Regions from separate parts of the Homo sapiens genome. Here all the other regions are linked to region 1. The links come from fine-mapping of genetic effects on gene expression. A gene starts in region 1. Each other region holds a variant in brackets. All regions are shown on one strand. Distances are between the middles of the regions.

Region 1 (6,216 bases):
AATTGTTCTAAAGAGCTTCTGCATAGCAAAAAGAAACTATCAACAGAGTAAACAGACAATCTATAGAATGAGAGAAAATATTTGCAAACTATGCAGCTGACAAAGGACTAATATACAGAAACAATAAGGAACTTAAATGAATCAACAAGAATAAAATAATCCTATTAAAAAGTGGGCAAGGGGCCAGGCACGGTGGCTCATGCCTGTAATCCTAGCGCTTTGGGAGGCCCAGGCAGGCAGATCCCTTGAGGTCAGAAGTTTGAGACCAGCCTGGCCAACATGGTAAACCCCATCTCTACTACAAGTACAAAAATTAGCTGAGTGTGGTACCGTGTGTCTGTAATCACAGCCACTTGGGAGGCTGAGGCAGGAGAATTGCTTGAACCCAGGGGAGGAGGTTGCAGTGAGCCGAGATGGCGCCACTGCACTCCAGCCTAGGTGACAGGGCAAGACTCTGTCTCAAAAAAAACAAAGAACAAAAGACATGAACAGACACTTCTCAAAAGAAGACATACACGCATACAAGCAGCCAACAAACATGAAAAAATGCCCAACATCACTAATCATCAGAGAAATGCAAATCAAAACCACGAGGAGAAACCATTTCACATCAGTCAATGGCTATTATTATTATTATTTTTTCTGCCAGCATCTTGATTTTGGACAGAATGGCTGTTATTAAAAAGTCAAAAAATAGGAGATATTGGCAAGGCTGCAAAGAATGGGGAATACTTATACACTGTTGGTGGGAATGTAAATTAGTTCAGCCACTGTGGAAAGCAGCTTGGAGATTTCTCAAAGAACTTAAAATAGAACTACCCTTCAACCCAGCAATCCCGTTAGTGGGTACACACCCAAAAGAAAAGAAATCTTTCTACCAAAAAGCCATCTGCACTCATATGTGCATAGCAGCACTATTCACTATAGGTTAGATATGGGGTCAACTGAGGTGCCCATCAATAGTGGATTGGATAAAGAAAATGTGGTACATTTCCAACATGGAATACTATGCAGTCATGAAAAAGAATGAAATCTTGTCCTTTGCAGCAACATAGATGCAGCTGGAAGCCATTATCCTAAGTGAATTCATGCAGAAACAGAAAACCAAATATGACATGTCTCACTTCTAAGGGGGAGCTAAACCTTGGGTACCCACAGATATAAAGATGGGAACAAAAGACATTGGGGACTCCAGAAGGGTGGGGGGAGTAGGGCAAGGGCTGAAAAACTTCCTATTGGGTACTGTGCTCACTACCTGGGTAAGGAGATCAACAGAAAACCAAACCTCAGTGTCACCCAATATATCCCCTAACAAACCTGCACATGTACCCCTTGAATCTAAAATAAAAATAAAAATAATAAGTTGTTGATTGGCTACACATTTTTCTCTGTATCACAAGTTGCAGGAACATGCAGATAATGGGTGAGGCAGTGAGTCAGGAACAAAATGCCTTTAAACCATGGCCCCCACGGCCGGGTGCGGTAGCTCATGCCTGTAATCCCAGCACTTTGGGAGGCCGAGGTGAGTGGATCACTTGAGGTCAGGAGTTCAAGACTAGCCTGGCAAACATGGTGAAACCCCGTCTCTACCAAAAATACAAAAAATTAGCTGGACATGGTGGCAGGCCCCTGTAATCCCAGCTACTTGGGAGGCTGAGGCAGGAGAATTGCCTGAACCCAGGAGGTGGAGGTTGCAGTGAGCTGAGATCGCGCCATTGCACTCTCAGCCTGGGTAACAAAGCAAGACTCTAAAAACAAAAACAAAAAACAAACAAACAAACAAAAAACTATGGCCCCCCAAGCACTGCAGGGGGACCTGGACTGAAGTCCTATACTACTGTTTCTCTGGGCCTGATATATTTTGTTGTATCTAAGCTGCTTTCCTCAGATACAAATCCTTCAACAAACCCTAGGGAAAATTTCCTCTCAAGTCCCTCCAATTCTCCCAGTTCTGCCACGCTTTGTACACCCCTAACGAAAGGGGCCAGGTGCAGTAGCTCAGGCACGTAATCCCAACACTTTGAGAGGCTGAGGAGGGTGGATCACTTGAGCCCAGGAGTTCCAGACCAGCCTGGACAACATGGCAAGACTCCTGTCTCTACAAAAACTACAAAAATTAGCTGGGTATGGTGGTGCACACCTGCGGTCCCAGCTACTCGGGAAGCTGAGGCCGGAGGATCGCCTGAATCCAGGAGGTAGAGGCTGCAGTGAACCAAGTTCAAGACACTGCACTCCAGCCTGAACAGAGCGAGACCCCTGTCTCAAAAAAGTAAAATTAAAAATGGGGCCCGGCGCAGTGGCTCACGCCTGTAATTTCAACACTTTGGGAGGTGGAGGCGGGAGGATCGTTTGAGGTTGGGAGTTCGAGACCAGCCTGGCCAACATGGTGAAACCCGGTCTCCACTAAAAATACAAAACTTAGCCGGGCTTGGCGGCGCACGTCTGTAATCCCATCTACTATGAAGGCTGAGGTGGGAGGATCGCTTGAACTCGGGAGGTTGAAGCTGCAGTAAGCCGAGATCGCGCCACTGCACTCCAGCCTGGGCGACAGCGCGAGACTCCGTCTCAAAATAAATAAATAAATACATACATACATAAAGTAAAATAATGAATAAATAAAATAAGAAATGGGGAAATGGATCAGCAAGAAAGTGCCCGCCCCAGGCATGGGTGCCGTGCGGGACGGGGACGCGGCCCAGCCGGGAATCGGGGTGCCCAGGGTGCGATGTGCGAGGGGCTCCTGAGCGCGTGTGCTCCGCCCGACCCCGCCCTGTCCCCCCGACACACAGGTGGACCCAGGGTCAGCTCGTGCACCTGGGAAATGGCTCCCGCCGGGTAGCAGGGGCGGAGGGGCGGGGCTGGGCGGAGGGGCGGGGGGGCGGGGCCTGCCCGGGAGCCACGTCCGGGGAGGGGCCAGGTGAGCGGCAGACCCGGCACGCAGGTGGGGGCCGGCGGGGTCCGTGGCCAGGTAAGGCGGGCGGCGGCGGGAGGGAGCGCGCAGGGAGGAGGCCGTGCTCGGGGTGGGGGGGTGCGCCGCGGGGGCTCCCAGGGCGTGTACGGGGACAAGGGGCCGCTGGCCGGGTAGGGACGCCCAGGCGGGCGCGACGCCACGTGCGGCCGGGGGGAGACCCTCCGGCCGGCGCGCAGCCTCCGGGTCCCCTGTGGGTTCTAGACTCCCTCTCCCTTCACCTCCTTTCTTTCCCGCCCCCCCACACTCCCCTCCTCTGCTTTTTCCCCTGTCCTGTTCCTTCTCACCCCGCACCGCCTTCCCCGCCCTCGCCTCTCTCAGCCTGCGTTTTGGTCTGGTCTGGCCGGACGGTGTCAGCTCAAATGTTCCTTTTTTGCTTCCGTCCTGGGGTCTCAGGTTAGGTCGGGTCAGCGCCTGGGGGAGGCACCTCCCCCGCCCCCACACACCCCAAACCTACAAGGTGGGTGAGGTCATTCCCGTTTCATAGATGAGAAAACGGAGGCCGGGGCAGGTGCTGCGCTGATTCAAACTCAGGGGGTGGGGGGCTGGCCGGTTCAACACACAGCGGTGGAACCCCCCGGGAGTTAAAAGCAGAAACTTTTTTTTTTTTTTTTGACACCGAGTCTTGCTCTGTCCCCAGGCTGGATTGCAGTGTTGCATCTCTGCTCACTGCAACCTCCGCCTCCTGGGTTCAAGCGATTCTTGTGCCTCAGCCTCCCGAGTAGCTGGGATTACAGGGACTGACACCATGCCAGCTAATTTTTTGTATTTTTAGTACAGACAGGGTTTCACCATGTTGTCCAGGCTGGTCTCGACCACCTGACCTCAGGTGATCCGTCTTCCTGGGCCTCCCAAAGTGCTGGGATTACAGTCGTGAGACACCGCGCCCGGCCTAAAAGCCCAAAGTTTAAACCAATCCGCTAGCAGCCTCGGAGGTCGTCAGGAAGGCAGGGAGGCCCTGCCTTTCACTTTCCCTCAATCCTGTGGGGGGTGGGGGGGCTCCTGAGAATCCCTCGGGCTCTGCCACACCCTGACTTGGAAATTTCTCCGCTGCCTTGGGAGGAGTGTGAAGGCCCCGGAGAAGGAACCGCAGAGTCCACCCGGGAAGGAGGGTGGGATTGTTTGGCGGGATGGGGACAGCACCTTGGCCACCGACTTCAGGGTTTTGTGACAGAGGCTGTGTAGATTCCAGAGAGCTCTGTGCCGTCCCTCGCTTGCCTGTGAAATGCAGTGTTGGCATTTGTCCAGCTGAGAACTCAATGCTTAAGACTCAGCCGTTTCAGAAGTCGATGTCCTTTGGTTGGCCTCTCTGTTGGCAGCTTTAGGATCATGTTTGTGGACTCCTCATTCGATTCACTGACTAACCATTCCCCAAACCAACGCCAGAGTTGGGGGTAGGGCGAAGAGGGACATGGGATGTGGGCCTGAGCCCAGCTGATTCTTGTGGACAGCCAGCTGCCTGGTCCCTGCCCTCAGGGGCCCAGAGTCTGGCTTCTGTGTAGAGAGAATCCAAGGGTTTGTGGGAGCTTAGGAAGGGCTTCCTGGAGGAGGTGGCCATTGAGCTGGAAGGTGGATGGGAGGTGGATGGGGAAGAGAATGGCACCTACTGGCTAGGGATACTTCGCTTGTGAGGTACGGGTGGAAAAGTCCATGGAGTGCCTGACGGGGTGGGCCAATTTACTTGGATAACATCATTGGGTCATTGAAACTTTGTGTGTGTGTGTGTGTGTGTGTGTGTGTGTGTGTGACGCAGTTTTCGCTCTTGTCGCCCAGGCTGGAGTGCAATGGCACGATCTCAGCTCACTGCAACCTCTGCCTCCTTGGTTCAAGTGCTTCTCGTGCCTCAGCATCCAGAGTAGCTAGGATTACAGGCGCCCACCACCACACCCAGCTAATTTTTGTATTTTTAGTAGAAGTGGGGTTTCACCATGTTAGGCAGGCTGGTCTCAAACTCCTGACCTCAGACGATTTGTCTGCCTTGGCCTTCCAAAGTGCTTGGAGTGCTGGGATTACAGGCATGAGCCACCACACCCGGCCGAGTCATTGAAACTTACTTGACTTAAACATGCCTGGGACATCATGCCATCTGCCTAACAAGCCAGTTCTAGGCTGAGCTATTCATGGGCACACTGTAAACGATGGAGTTAAAGGCGGCTTCGGTTAAAGAGACGAGAGCAAGGAACTCAGGTCCTGGAGGTGCCTGACAGTATGTTTCACCACATTAAAAAAAACCCATCCCATTCCCTGATTTTACCCTCATTTCACTGATAGGGAAACTGAGGCACAGGCAGCATGAGGGTGAGAAAGAGATGGAGAAGGAGTCAGCAGACCTGGTTTTTAGGCAGGTCACTCTCCTTCTGGGGCACTCAGCCTCCTCATCTGCAAAAGGAGCTATTGGCTGTCCTTCCCCACTGCGATGGTGGTCACCAAATGGCCATGAAACCCTCACTGCACACTTGGCTGCCTGACTCCTTGCTCACATCAGGAGGCACGGACTGTTACTGCCCCGTTCACAGATGAGGAAACAGACAAGGAAGGTTAAGGTCCCATGGCTAGTGATTAGAGAGCCAGGCTTGGAAGCCAGCGGTGCTGCAGCTACAGTGTTCCCCGTGTCCCCACCTTCCTCCCACACACACTGTGCTGAGCCACCTCCCTGGGCACTGAGGTGTGCCTCCCACATGGGAGCTGGTGTCTGGTGTAAGATGGAGCCATTCGGAGCCTGCCGGTGACTACCCTTCAAATCTATGTGAAATTAGCATGGGGAGAGAAAATAGACGTTTTCCATTTCTTTCCAAATTATTTAACTTTTACCCCTTGGTCCTTTAATTAAAACTGATGCTCAAGGAAGATGCATCACGTGTGTCCAGATGCTTCCCAGGCCTCCCTGGGGTGCATTTGAGGGGAGAGCCTCTGGGCCCTGCACTGTGGGACTTAGCTGCAGGAGAGCGCGCTGCTCCGGAGTCCTGCCCCAGCTGCCTTCACAGGGCGTCTCCCTGGAGCTTCTGGCAGCCTGTTGTGTCCAGATTTCTGTGTCCCTGGAAGGCAGAGGACCTGGCTGAGTGACTCTCTCTCCAAGTTAGGTCTTTGGGCCCCCATTTTCTCACCTCTCAGATGGGTGTCATAAACCATCGGTTTGTCTTGAGGCTGGGGAAGTGGGGGGTGGGGATAATGTCAGGGCTCAGGAGAGGCAGGCGCTGCAATGGTTAACAACCGGGATGGGGCCTGCCTTCCTCTCTCTTGACCTGGAG
Region 2 (6,216 bases), 110 kb after region 1:
TGACCTCAGGTGATTCACCCACCTCGGCCTCTGAAAGTGCTGGTATTATAGGTGTGAGCCACCACGACCAGTCTTGAGTAAGAATTCTTTCTTTTGGCCGGCTCTACCAGGGGTCCTGGCTCTCTGTGCAGCTCCCAGACCAAGTGAGGTGTTCCAGCCAAGGGTACCTCATCCCCATGACTAGAAACTGCAGGGAGGGTCAAAATCTTTTCCTTCTCCCCATCTTAGGTTCCTTGGTGGGGGCCCTGTTGCTTGGACTAACAAAAGACAGATTCACAAGAGAAAAACATACCAGTTTATTTACTAGAAGTTGCACATGACATGGGTACCTTCGTAAGGAAACGAAGGCCCAGAGATCCAGTCCACTGAGTGTGCTGATGCCAGGTTGGAAGAAGAGTGGAGAGGCGTGGGAAGTGCGACGGACAGGGGAGTGAGCCTGGGGCAGGAAACTAGGGGGACATGCCATCTTCAGAGATGAGTTTGCCCCTTCCCTCTGGGTATAGGGAAGGCGCCTCTCATAGGATGATCTCATGGCCTGCTCCAGAGGAGAAAGGGGAGGTCAGAGAGTCCTCGAGGCCCAGCCTCCCACATGCAAGCTGTGTGACCTCGGGCTAGTCACCTAACCTCTCAGAGCTCTCTTTCCTCCTCTCTCTACACTGGGGTGGTTGAAATGCTTGACCTCTTGCTCCCTCATAGGGAGTGCTCAGTGACATTGGCGGTTGTGACGCTCAGCTCACCAGTCCTGCCTACTTGCCAGCAGGTATTCTCAGAGGGACCACAGAGCTGAGGGTGACCTGCACCAGTACCCACTTGGGACCATAATTCGTAGATAAGGTTCAGGCACAACACCCAGAGAAGGAAATGGCAGCCACCTGGCTCGGTTGAAATACTCATTTCAAGGGAATTCCTTGTCCATTCAAATGACTGAACAACAGCTTGATTTCATGGAATAATGGCTTTTATTAAGAAGCCAACAGGAATGATCATAGTGGGGAGTCTTGTGTCCTGGCAGTGGGTGTTTGTAGAGCACCCGGTGGTCACCAGCAACTCTGTGCAAGGCTCAGTGGGAGGGTGATTGGTGTGTTGGAGGATGTGGGTACACAGTAGCATAGGCATGCATGTGGCTGAGTGCACACATGTGCATACATGTTCACACATGCACCCGCAGCGGGAACTTGGTGAATACTTGTTGGTTGGTGGTGGTTTTTTTTTTTTTTTGAGATGGAGTTTCACTCTTGTTGCCCAGGCTGGAGTGCAATGGCACCATCTCGGCTCAGTGCAGCCTCTGTCTTCTGAGTTCAAGCAATTCTCCAGCTTCAGCCTCCCATGTAGCTCTGGGATTACAGGTGTGTGCCACCATACCCGGCTTTTTTTTTTTTTTTTTTAAGTAACAGGGTTTCACCATGTTGGGTCAGGCTGGTCTCGCACTCCTGACCTCAAGTGATGTGCCTGCCTCGGCCTCCCAAAGTGTTGGGATTACAGGCATGAGCCACTGTGCCTGGCTGGTTGGTGGGTTTTGACTGGAAGGCTATGGAGCTCCAGTGGTAGATGTGGTTATAAGGGTAACTGGGGGGTCTCAGAGTGGGGGCCAGTTGCATCAGGCCCCTGGAGGGTGGGACACTGCCTTTCCAAGAGCAACAAAGTGTGGGCGATTTGTGGTGCTGAGAATCCTGAGCAGGCAGTTCGTCTAGAGCAGGGTTGCAAACTTTTTCTGTAAAAGGCCAGATAGTAAATATGTTAGGCTTTGTGGGCCTTGTAGTCTCTGTTGCAACTACTCAGCTCTGCCCTGATGAGGCAAAAGCAGCCACAGGCAATGTACAAAATGTCCGTGGCTGTGTTCCAAGAAAACGTTATTGGCAAAAACAGGCAGTGGGCCAGATCTAAGCCATGGGCCGTAGTTTGCCAACCCCTGGTCTAGACCACTCCCATTTATAAAGTGATTCGGCTTTAGCAGCTTCCTGGAAGGTGGTGCTGCTGGCTGATAAAGCAGAGGGATGGAGCTTGTAGAATTCAGGTGATGATAGGGCTTGGATCTGAGTCCCCAGCGCGTCTCATGTTGAATTGAAACTTTGGAGGTGGGGACTGGTGGCAGGTGATTGGATCATGAGGGCAGATACCTCATGGGTTGGTGCTGTCCTCGAGATAGTGAGTTCTTACCAGATCTGGTTTAAAAGCATGTGGCACCTCTGTCCCACTCTCTCTTGCTCCTGTTTTTGCCACGTGATGCACCTCCTTCCTTTTTGCCTTCTGCCATAATTGGAAGCCTCCTGAGGCTTCTCCAGAAGCTGAACAGGTGCTGGTGCCATGCTTGTACAGCCTGTAGAACCATGAGCCAGTTAAACCTCTTTTCTTATAAATAACCCCATCTCAGCAAGAATAGCCAAACACACAGGTTTGCTGAGCAGAGCCATACGGCCAGAAGATAAGTGGGGGTCCCAAGCCCAAATGTGGGATAGTCCATCCTCAGAGCTGTCCTTCCTACACCCCTGTTCTCCTCCCGGGCCGGGATGCAGCGCTGCCCCTGGCCCCTCTG[G/C]AGCTCAGCAGGGAGCCCCATGCCCTTCCAGGTGTGGAGAGCAGCCTGCGTGTCACTGGCTGCCGCCAGATCTTACGGAGCCTCCCAGAGCACAACTACGTCGTCCTCCGCTACCTCATGGGCTTCCTGCATGCGGTGAGTGGGGAAGGGGGGAGCTTGGGGTGAAGCCCAGTGGCCTTCCCTCCCATGCTGGGCCCGCATGGACCAGTCCCCTCCTTGCCCTGGGTCTGGGGTCATGCCCTGCTTGGGCCTCGGAATACCACTCCCTGCCCCCCAAGGACCTCATCCAAGGCCTGGTCAGGCACCCATGCTGCTGCGGACCTCCTGCCTGTCAGACAGGGCGTACCTGCCCCTGCCTGCTCCTGTACCTGCTGTCCCTCAGCCATTGCCAGTGACTTTTGTTATTGGGGTCCTCTGCCCCCATGTCATTTCCTGCTTGGGCTGAGTCTCTAGGAGGTGGGAGCTGTGTCCACCACTGGTACAGAGCCCAGTGGACTGAGCTGACCATTCCTGGGGAAGGGATACACCCAGAACCACGTACATTAAGTTCCTGTGACTGCATCGTGGGTGCCTTAAAACAGATTTACTGTGTCACTCTTCTAGAGGCTAGCAGTCCAAAAGCAAGGTGTGGCGGGCTGTGCTCCTTCCAGAGGCTCTAGGGAAGGTTCCCCTTCCTGGCCTCTCCCAGCTCCTGGTCACTCCAGCTATGCCTCCAGCTCCCCCCTGGCCTTTGTCTGTGTGTGTGTCTAATCTCCCTCCACCTTTCCCTCCTAAGTGTGGACCCCCTGCCATATGTCACTGGGTTTAGGACCCACCCAGATGACGCGGGATGATCTCATCTTGAGATCCTCAACGACAGCTGCAACGGCCCTCGTTCCAAATAAGGTCACAGTCAGATTCTCTGTGGTCTATCTTAGAGGGGCCACCATTCAATCTACTACACACCAGGCTAAGCAAATGACCAGAGAGAGAGAAACCCTTCAGTGCTCTGGGCCTGGGCTTAGTGTGCTCTCCCCCTGGGGCAGGGATCCATTTGGAGCAAAAACCTGTGCAGCCAACAGGGGAAGGTTCAACACATCCACGTGGGTCCACCCCCAACCCCCAGACCCACGGCCTTGAATGTTTAACCCCCTCCATCTCTCCAGGCCTTCGCCCCAGGCTGTGCAGGGTGAGGAGAGCCTGAGCAGAGTAGGCGTCACATCCCAGAGTCTGTTGGAGAATGTCACTTCTTGGTTTTACAACAATTTTTTTTCTCCCTGTTGCTTGACATAATTTCTCAGAGGCCCAAAACTAAACTCTCCTAATTCTCTCAAAAAAATTTTTTGAGACAGTCTTGCTCTGTTGCCCTAGCTGGTGTGCACTGGTGCAATCTCAGCTCACTGCAACCCCAGCCTCCCACGTAGCTGGGATTACAGGTGAGAACCACCATGCCCGGCTAATTTTTGTTTTTTTAGTAGAGATGGGGTTTCGTCACATTGGCCAGGCTGATCTTGAACTCCTGACCTCAGGTGATCCACCTGCCTCGGCCTCTTAAGAGTGCTGGGATTACAGGTGTGAGCCACTGCACCCAGCCTACTTCTTTTTCATTAGGAGAGACTGATTTCTCTCTCTAGCCGCCACCTCCATGGGCACCGATGTGAATGCACCTGGTGGGGTGTGGTGTTGCGTGTTATCACCCCAGTGGCACCTGGGGGCCTCGGCTTGAGGAGGGGTGGCCTGCAGTGGGCCTGGCTGGTGCACACCTGCAACGGGCTTGGGGGACCGGCAGCCAGGGGGAGCCTGAAAGGCATCCAGCCATCTCACCTGAGCATCCTCAACAGATCTGTGAGGGTGGTGCCTGGCCCTGCCTCCCTCCAGTTCTCTGCTCTGCCCTGGTACTCACCGCCTCATGACCCCTGTTTCTGACTGAGGTTCCCCCCAGCTTGAATCTTGTAGGGAGGCAAGGAGCAGAGAACAGGCCCTGCCCTCACGTTGGTCCACATGGCCCCCTGCCACTGGCTGGCCACATGACCTTGGGCAAGTCTCCTGTACCTTCCAGGCCCCAGATTCCTCATCTGTAAGATGGGGAGTAATGACTCCCCCGTGCTGGGGTTGCACGTGTTGGCGGAGATGGACAAGGAGCCCCTTCTAGCAGGCAAGCTCTTTCCACTCTCCCTGCCCCTCGTAGTGGCCCCTAGATGTGCTGGCTGGTCCCCATCATGCCCAGTTCGCCACTCACAGAGCCGAGGCCAGAGAGGTCACCAAGTTCGTACCGTCTGTGCTACAGCCCATCCCCAAGATTGCATCTCCCCAGAAGGTGCAGTGGAAGAGGAGATAGTGGGGGGTTGAGGCTGTCACAGAAGGTCAGAGCCAGAGGGTCCTCCAGGACATGGAGGCCAAGCCTTCCTTTTAGAGATAGGGTAACTAAGGCCCTGAGTGGGCAGGTGGCTGCACAGGGTCCCCATTACTGGCTGCCGGCTCCCAGTCCAGTGCTCCTCTCACTACACCTACGCCTCTCCCTAAGTTCGGGAGGGAGTTCCAGGTGCCCGTGCCCCTTGGTGTTCACTCCCCTTTACTTGTGTGTGGTTTCCTCCAGGTGTCCCGGGAGAGCATCTTCAACAAAATGAACAGCTCTAACCTGGCCTGTGTCTTCGGGCTGAATTTGATCTGGCCATCCCAGGGGGTCTCCTCCCTGAGTGCCCTTGTGCCCCTGAACATGTTCACTGAACTGCTGATCGAGTACTATGAAAAGATCTTCAGCACCCCGGAGGCACCTGGGGAGCACGGCCTGGCACCATGGGAACAGGGGAGCAGGGCAGCCCCTTTGCAGGAGGCTGTGCCACGGACACAAGCCACGGGCCTCACCAAGCCTACCCTACCTCCGAGTCCCCTGATGGCAGCCAGAAGACGTCTCTAGTGTTGCGAACACTCTGTATATTTCGAGCTACCTCCCACACCTGTCTGTGCACTTGTATGTTTTGTAAACTTGGCATCTGTAAAAATAACCAGCCATTAGATGAATTCAGAACCTTCTAATGAAAACTCCATGCCTCTGGTCCTTGGACTCTTGTCCATGGTTCCTGAGCTGTGGACCGGGATAGAATAATGCATTTGTTAGGATGGATGTTTTGAATCCCAACCCAATGTGGTTTAACTGAAAACAGGAATGGAGTGGCTAACGGCTGCCAGGTCCTGCTGCTGCCACACTGCTGTGTAACACACCACCTAAGCCCAGTCACTGAAAGTTACTGCCCAGGAGTCAGTGGGTCAGCTGGGTGGTTCTATTGGTCTTTTGAGGGGGTCACTTACATGTCCTGGCTGAGCTGGCTGGCAGCTGGGGTGACTCTGTTCTCCCCCAGGTGTCCCAAGTCCTTCCAATGGCCAAACGGGGCACATTCTTACAACATAGGTCCAGGTGCACACACAAGCGCTATTGCAAGCAGTTTTCATGCTTTGACTGGCGTCCTGTATGCTCACATCTCATTGGCCAAAGCAAGCCTGGTGGCCAAGGCCAGGGTCACAGAGGGAGGGCCCTGCAAAGGGGGTGGATATGGGGAGGGTGAAGAATTGGGCATAAAGCAGCCAAGCTGCCCGAGGGCTCTGGGGTGCGACAGGACTCTGCAGTCTCAGGCAGGCTGACTCTTGGGCTGGCAAAACGGGCCCTGTATTTCCATCAGATATGGTAGAGAAGGATACAACTTCTT
Region 3 (6,216 bases), 99 kb after region 1:
ATCAGTTGTGCATTACACAATCATGGAGCATCAGGTCTGCACGGGGCCCAGCTCAGGCCTGCCTGTCTCAGGCCCAGGGCCTGCGGTGTCATCTCTGCCACAGACCTGGCCTCAGAGAGCTGGCATTGTAGCCGGGAGCAACAGCATGCCACAGAGAAGCCAGCAGCCCACCCCAGTCCCCACTGGGAGCCCGGGAGGAGGCAGTTAGGGTAGTGTAGGGGCTGATGGGGCCAGAGCACACCCATTTCTAGGTGGGGACAGCATCATCCCTAGGACACATGGCTCCAGCATCAGGTGCGTCCCATCCGGACATCTCACGCCCTGTGTCTCAGAGCTCGTTCTGCAGCGGCAGTGCCCAGGCCGGGGTGCAGACCTCAGCAGTGCTGTGTTGTGTGTGCAGGGAAGCCCGTGAACTTTGACGACTACGGGGACATTCACATCCCTGCCGTGATCCTGAAGACCTTCCTGCGAGAGCTGCCCCAGCCGCTTCTGACCTTCCAGGCCTACGAGCAGATTCTCGGGATCACCTGTGCGTAGCTGCCCTGGCGCAGGGGTGGGGGGCTTGGTCCTCAGATGCTGTCCCCCAGCTACTGGCCCAGGGTCAGGCTCTGGGGTGGCCGAGGTGACGTGTACCCACCCTCCTCCTGTTGCCATCTGGCACTGCAGGGCAAGAGAGGGGGTTGTTGGGGCTGCCCCCACCATGCACAGCCAGTCCACACTGTCCAAAGGCAGAGGAGGTGGGGTCGGTCAGGGTTGTCCAGGCCGGTCTCTCAGGCACAGCTGGGCCAGGAGGCAGGGTGATGGGGGGCTCTCTAGATTTGGGGCTCATCATCCTGGTCAAAGTCCTGCCTGTAACCGCTCCCAGGCCCCAGACCCTCAGCTCTCTCATCTAGAAAGGGCTCTCGGCATTTCTCCCCAGATCATTGTAGGATGCCAAGCATATATCACAGGAACTGAGCAGCTATAGTGTCTGATCCTACAGGCGCTTTGTGATGGGTCAAATGCTCAGTGTGGCTGAGCACAGATGACTCGTAAAAAACTCCGTAACAGCATCTCAAAACACTGGTGAATGCTAAGGAAAGTGATGCCTCGAAAGAACCATAAAACCCCTCAGGCCTTCATCTAAGTCATCGAACACCGTCTTTTCAAATGGGACTACCTCCAGCGCCCTCCTTTCTTCTTGGAGCACTAACAGTCGAAGGGGGGAGCTGATTTTGGTGTGAATTCTGAAGCAGCTCGGTTAAGATATCGTAAAGACAAATCTTGAATCTTAAAATCAATGTTTCTACCCCACTGTGTATTCAAGAATCACATTTGCCCAAAGGGCAGCCTGGCCTTTGTCCTGGCCCCTGGGGGGTGACTTCTGAACCTTGCACTTTCCCAAGGGGCAGGAGTTACCTTTGTCACTCATCAGGGGCCCTGATGGTTTATGGTAACTCATGGTTATGGTGTGACTCAAGATAGGGGTGTAGGGGTGGCCATTCCAGAAAGACCAATTACATGGTTAGAGGGTGCGGGCTTTGAGTGATGTGAGACCAGCCTGACCTCTGGGGAGGGCATGGGGCTGGAGACTGATTTCAGTCTCAAGGCGTCCTGTCAAGGTCGCTGGACCCCAAACTCCCCTCAAAGGCAAATTTACACCCATTTACTCAGCAGTGCTCCTAAGCGCCTGCCAAATGCAACGCCCTTTCTGAGATGGGGAAGGTCTCTCCTACACCCTGGAAGACCATGAAAGATGTTGAGGGCTGACTGACTTTGGCTAGTGGATGGGAAGCCTGGGAGAGTTCAGAGCCAGGCTGAGCCTCATGGAGACAAATTTGATCATGCGCATAGAGGTACCTATCTGGTGGAGACAGAAGGAGGCACTACATTCAGCAGCATCCTACCAGCCGGGGCCAGAGCAGGCAAGATGGACAATGCTCCATCACCTGAATGCGCCAGGCTGTGTCCTAGAGAGAAGCTTCCAGAAGCCTCCCAACTTCATTAGCCCCTGCAGAGGGATGATGACTCCAGCCTCTGTAGGTTCCTGCTTGAGAAAACTCAATGCTGCCAGGCGAACTTACTGTTTGTTCCAGCCAAAACCTGGTGACAGGGAGATAGGCCCTGGAACCCCTCTTTGAGCAGCAGTTCCTTTAGAAAGCTTGCAATTGTGGGCCAGGCATGGTGGCTCACACCTGTAATCCCAGCACTTTGAGAGGCTGAGTTGGGTGGATCACTTGTCATAGGAGTTCAAGACCAGCCTGGTCAACATGGCAAAACCCTGTCTCTACTAAAATACAAAAATTAGCCAAGCGTGGTGGTGCACGCCTGTAATCCCAGCTACTCAGGAGGCTGAGGCAGGAGAATGACTTGAACCCAGGAGGCAGAGGTTGTAGTGAGCCAGGATCGTGCCATTGCACTGCAGCCTAGGTGACAGAACAAGACTCCATCTCAAAAAAAAAAAAAAAAAAAGCTTGCAATTATGAATCCTTTATCTGTCCTTTGAGATGAAAATCATCTACCACCCAGAGCTATGTCAAGGACCTGAGAGCCATCTCTTTGAAATGAAAACATTCAAAGTGCTACCTCTGCCTCCCAGTCCCCGGGGAGGGAAGGACCCAGCTCTGGCTTGCACCACTGCCTCCGGTCATAAAGATACCAGACATTTGTCCACTTCCGGATAGGCACCAATTAACAAACCTGGAGAGCGTAGTCATATTAAGCAACCCTCTGTTGGGAAGGAAAAAATCCTTTCCTGCTACCCGTCTTAGGTTCATTGGTGGGAACCCTGTAACTTGTTATTCTGACAAAAGACAGATTCACA[C/T]GAGAAAAGCATGCCAGTTTATTTAATGTAAGTTTTACATGACACAGGAGCCTTTTAAATATTTATTTATTTATTTATTTATTTATTTAATTTTTGAGACAGTGTCTCGCTCTGTCGCCCAGGCTGGAGTGCCGTGGCATAATCTCGGCACACTGCAACCTCCACCTGACATGGGAACCTTTATGAAAATGAAGAAAATGAAGACCCAGGCTGGGCATGGTGGCTCATGCCTGTAATCCCAGCACTTTGGGAGGCCAAGGCAGAAAGATCACTTGAGTCCAAGAGTTTGAGTCCAAGAGTTTGAGTCCAGCCTGGGAAACATAGTGAGACCCCATCTCTACAAAAGATTTTAAAAATTGGCTGGGCTTGGTAGTGTATGCCTGTAGTCCCAGCTGCTCAGGAGGCTGAGGTGGGAGATCACCTGAGCCTGGGAGTTGGAGGCTACAGTGAGCCATGATCACACCACTGTACTCCAGCCTGGACAAAAGAGCAAGACCATGTCCCCAAAACAGAAGGAATGATGGAGGGAGGGAGGGAGGAAAGCAAGCAAGAAAGAAAAGAAATAAAGAAAATGGGCCGGGTGCAGTGGCTCACTCCTGTAAACTCAGCACTTCGGGAAGCCAAGGTGGGTGGATCACCTGAGGTCAGGAGTTTGAGATCAGCCTGGCCAACATGGTGAAACCCCGTCTCCACTAAAAATACAAAAATTAGCTGGGCGTGGTGGTGGACACCTGTAATCCTAGCTACTCAGGAGGCTGAGGCACGAGAACTGCTTTGAACCCAGGAGGCAGAGGTTGTAGTGAGCCGAGATCGCACTGCTGCACTCCAGCCTGGGCGACAGAGTGAGACTTTGTCAAAAAAAAAAAAAAAAAAAAAAAAAAAAGGAAGGGAGGAAGGAAGGTGAAGGAAGGTGAAGACATGGTTCAGCCCGAATGTTTTGATACTAGGTTTGGTGAAGAGTGGAAAGTCATGGAGCTTCAATTCCTTTTGTCATTCCGCCGTCTTTAGAGATAAGGCACCCTCTGGACATAGGGAAGACCCCCTCCCATTAGAAGGTTTTATGATCTGCTACACAGAAGTAGGGGGAGTCAGAGAGAGCCCTTCCCACACCTGCCTTTCTTAGATTCCTTCAGCTCAATAACATATTCAGCATGCCCAGGCTCCATATTTGGGACAGTAGTGTTCCGGACCCCAGCATTCCCCCATCTGGAACTTTCCCCAGGAAGTTTTACAGTCCAGAAACTGAGTTGGTAGATTGTCTCATGTTGCATGAATCCTTCTCTCAGTGCTGTGACTAGGTCACTCCAGGGAAAGAGTTGTGTCTCAATTCAGGAGGTAGCGGTGGAGGTGGGAGTAGGGTGACTACCTAAGTCAGCCTGTTAATAAGGGGCCTTTCTTTGTCAACAAACATGAAGTTCAGTGGTTTGAACAAACCATAAGTTCCGGGGATTTTTTTTATTTTGTTTTTTGTTTGTTTGTTTTGTTTTTGAGGTGAAGTCTCACTCTCACTCAGGCTGGAGTGCAGTGGCACGATCTCGGCTCAGTGCAACCTCCACCTCCCAGGTTCAAGCCTTTCTCCTGCCCCAGCCTGCCGAGTAGCTGGGACGACAGGCCCGTGTCACCACGCCTGGCTAATTTTTTGTATTTTTAGTAGAGACAGCATTTCACTGTGTCAGCCAGGATGGTCTCAATCTCCTGACCTTGTGATCCGCCCACCTCAGCCTCCCAAAGTGCTGGGATTACAGGCATGAGCCACCGTGTCCGGCCTAAACTCCATTTTTTTAGTCAGGAGAACATTTAGTTGAGAAGATTCCTAGATGTTGGCTTGAAGTATCCTTTCATGGTAGAGAGAGAGTGGCAGCAGCTGGCCAGTGAATTCCATAGTTTGCAATTTAGATGTCTTTGGTGATGGCACTGGGTGTTCCGGTGAACTTTCTGAGCAGACTGAGTAGGAGGCACAAGGACTATCCGTACATCATCTGCTGTGATTTCTCTGAAGTTTATATCAAGTCTTCCAGCGTCAGCTTTTGGGGCTTTGGGGAAATGGCAGGTTTTAGTTCTTTGTCATGCCAACTCAGGGGGTAGGAGAAAACTGGAAATGTTAGCTTGGAGCGTCGTAGCCAGATATTGGAGGAAAGGAGAGGAACTGAGAACCCGCAAGCGTGCGCCGTAGTTTTCCACGGGAGCATCATTTCTCTGTACCGTTGCTTCTCTCTTGATTCTCAGTTACAAAATAAGTCTGGTTTCATTAGAATTTGGCCTGATTATTTACATAAGGGCAGCAAGAATGGGAATTGACCTATGTCGGCTCTTTTTAAGTCTACCTTGCTAGAACTTTTAATAAGGAATCTCAGATTCACTTTTTAAAAGCCTCTTGAGGCTAGAAAGCCAAGTTAAAAATTTGCCATCAGGGCCAGCTGCGGTGGTTCACGCCTGTAATCCTAGCACTTTGGGAGACCAAGGCGGGTGGATCACCTGAGGTTGGGAGTTTGAGACCAGTCTGACCAACATGGAGAAATCCCATCTCTACTAAAAATACAGAATTAGCCAGGCATGGTGGCATGCACCTGTAATCCCAGCTACTCGGGAGGCTGAGGCAGGAGGATCGCTTGAACCCGGGAGGCAGAGGTTGCAGTGAGCTGAGATCTCACCATTGCACTCCAGCCTGGGACACAGCGAGACTCTGTCTCAAAAAAAAAAAAAAAAAAAAAAAAAAAAAAAAAAAAAACCATCAGACTTTGCCTGCAGTATCTGTAGATTTGAGAGAATTCCTCTCTTCTCAAGGTTCTCAATATATTTTAAGTTTCCTGGGCCTGCCAGGAAGCGGCCTTGCTTACTCACTGTAACGTCATACATAACACTGAATAAGGCTAGTTGTCATTTCAAGGAATTCCCCTTGTATCTTTTTTTTTTTTTTTTTGAGACGGAGTCTTGCTTTGTTGCCCAGGTTGGAGTGCAGTGGCCTGATCTTGGCTCATTACAACTTCTGCCTCCTGGGCTCAAGTGATCCATCTGCCTCAGCCTCCGGAGTAGCTGGGATTACAGGTGTGCGCCGCCACACCCAGCTAATTGTATTTTTAGTAGAGACGGGCTTCACCATGTTGCCCAGGCTAGTCTTGAACTCCTGACCTCAAATGATCCACCCACCTCAACCTCCTAAAGTGCTGGGATTATAGGCATGAGCCACCATGCCAGGCCCTTGTTATGCATTTTTAACCCTACTTCACTAGTAAGCCCAACTACATAAAGATGTATGCTTGGATTATACTTAATATGGGTAACTCAGAAGATGCAGCTGGTTTTTTTGTTTTGTTTTTGTGTTGAGATGGAGTCTCGCTCTGTTGCCCAGGCTGGAGTGCAATGGCACCATCTCAGCTCACTGCAACCTCTGGCTCCTGGGTTCAAGCAATTCT

Which allele goes with the higher level. Alleles are on the strand shown, and positions count from the first base shown. SD is a standard deviation of normalised expression in the study named. Not every link is listed here.
With allele C in place of G in region 2, the expression in esophagus mucosa of the gene that starts at base 2,916 in region 1 is lower (moderate effect, 0.68 SD a copy in GTEx).

What was found. PIP is the estimated chance that this variant, and not a neighbour inherited with it, causes the effect.
Region 2: its variant is fine-mapped to the expression of ARHGAP8 in esophagus mucosa (GTEx, PIP above 0.99). The same link has a PIP of 0.9 or more in lung, pancreas, prefrontal cortex, prostate, stomach and subcutaneous fat.
Region 3: its variant is fine-mapped to the expression of ARHGAP8 in thyroid (GTEx, PIP above 0.99).

What each region holds. Positions count from the first base shown.
Region 1 is chr22:44,749,660-44,755,875 of GRCh38, forward strand. It overlaps ARHGAP8 (Rho GTPase activating protein 8), which reads left to right and starts at 2,916. Exons shown (of 12, transcript NM_181335.3): 1 at 2,916-2,968. The region is part of intron 4 of PRR5-ARHGAP8 (PRR5-ARHGAP8 readthrough); the gene reads left to right.
Region 2 is chr22:44,857,167-44,863,382 of GRCh38, forward strand. It overlaps PRR5-ARHGAP8 (PRR5-ARHGAP8 readthrough), which reads left to right. Exons shown (of 15, transcript NM_181334.6): 14 at 2,565-2,668; 15 at 5,109-5,618. The coding sequence ends at 5,429. It overlaps ARHGAP8 (Rho GTPase activating protein 8), which reads left to right. Exons shown (of 12, transcript NM_181335.3): 11 at 2,565-2,668; 12 at 5,109-5,618. The coding sequence ends at 5,429. LOC105373062 (a long non-coding RNA gene) reads right to left here. Exons shown (of 4, transcript XR_938302.3): 3 at 5,822-6,045; 4 at 2,290-2,317. Among named protein-coding and RNA genes, the nearest start is that of ARHGAP8, 110 kb to the left of the region's middle. RefSeq lists an enhancer at 2,188-2,882. The variant G/C (reference allele first, on the strand shown) is at 2,534.
Region 3 is chr22:44,848,532-44,854,747 of GRCh38, forward strand. It overlaps PRR5-ARHGAP8 (PRR5-ARHGAP8 readthrough), which reads left to right. Exons shown (of 15, transcript NM_181334.6): 13 at 401-529. ARHGAP8 (Rho GTPase activating protein 8) reads left to right here. Exons shown (of 12, transcript NM_181335.3): 10 at 401-529. Among named protein-coding and RNA genes, the nearest start is that of ARHGAP8, 99 kb to the left of the region's middle. The variant C/T (reference allele first, on the strand shown) is at 2,804.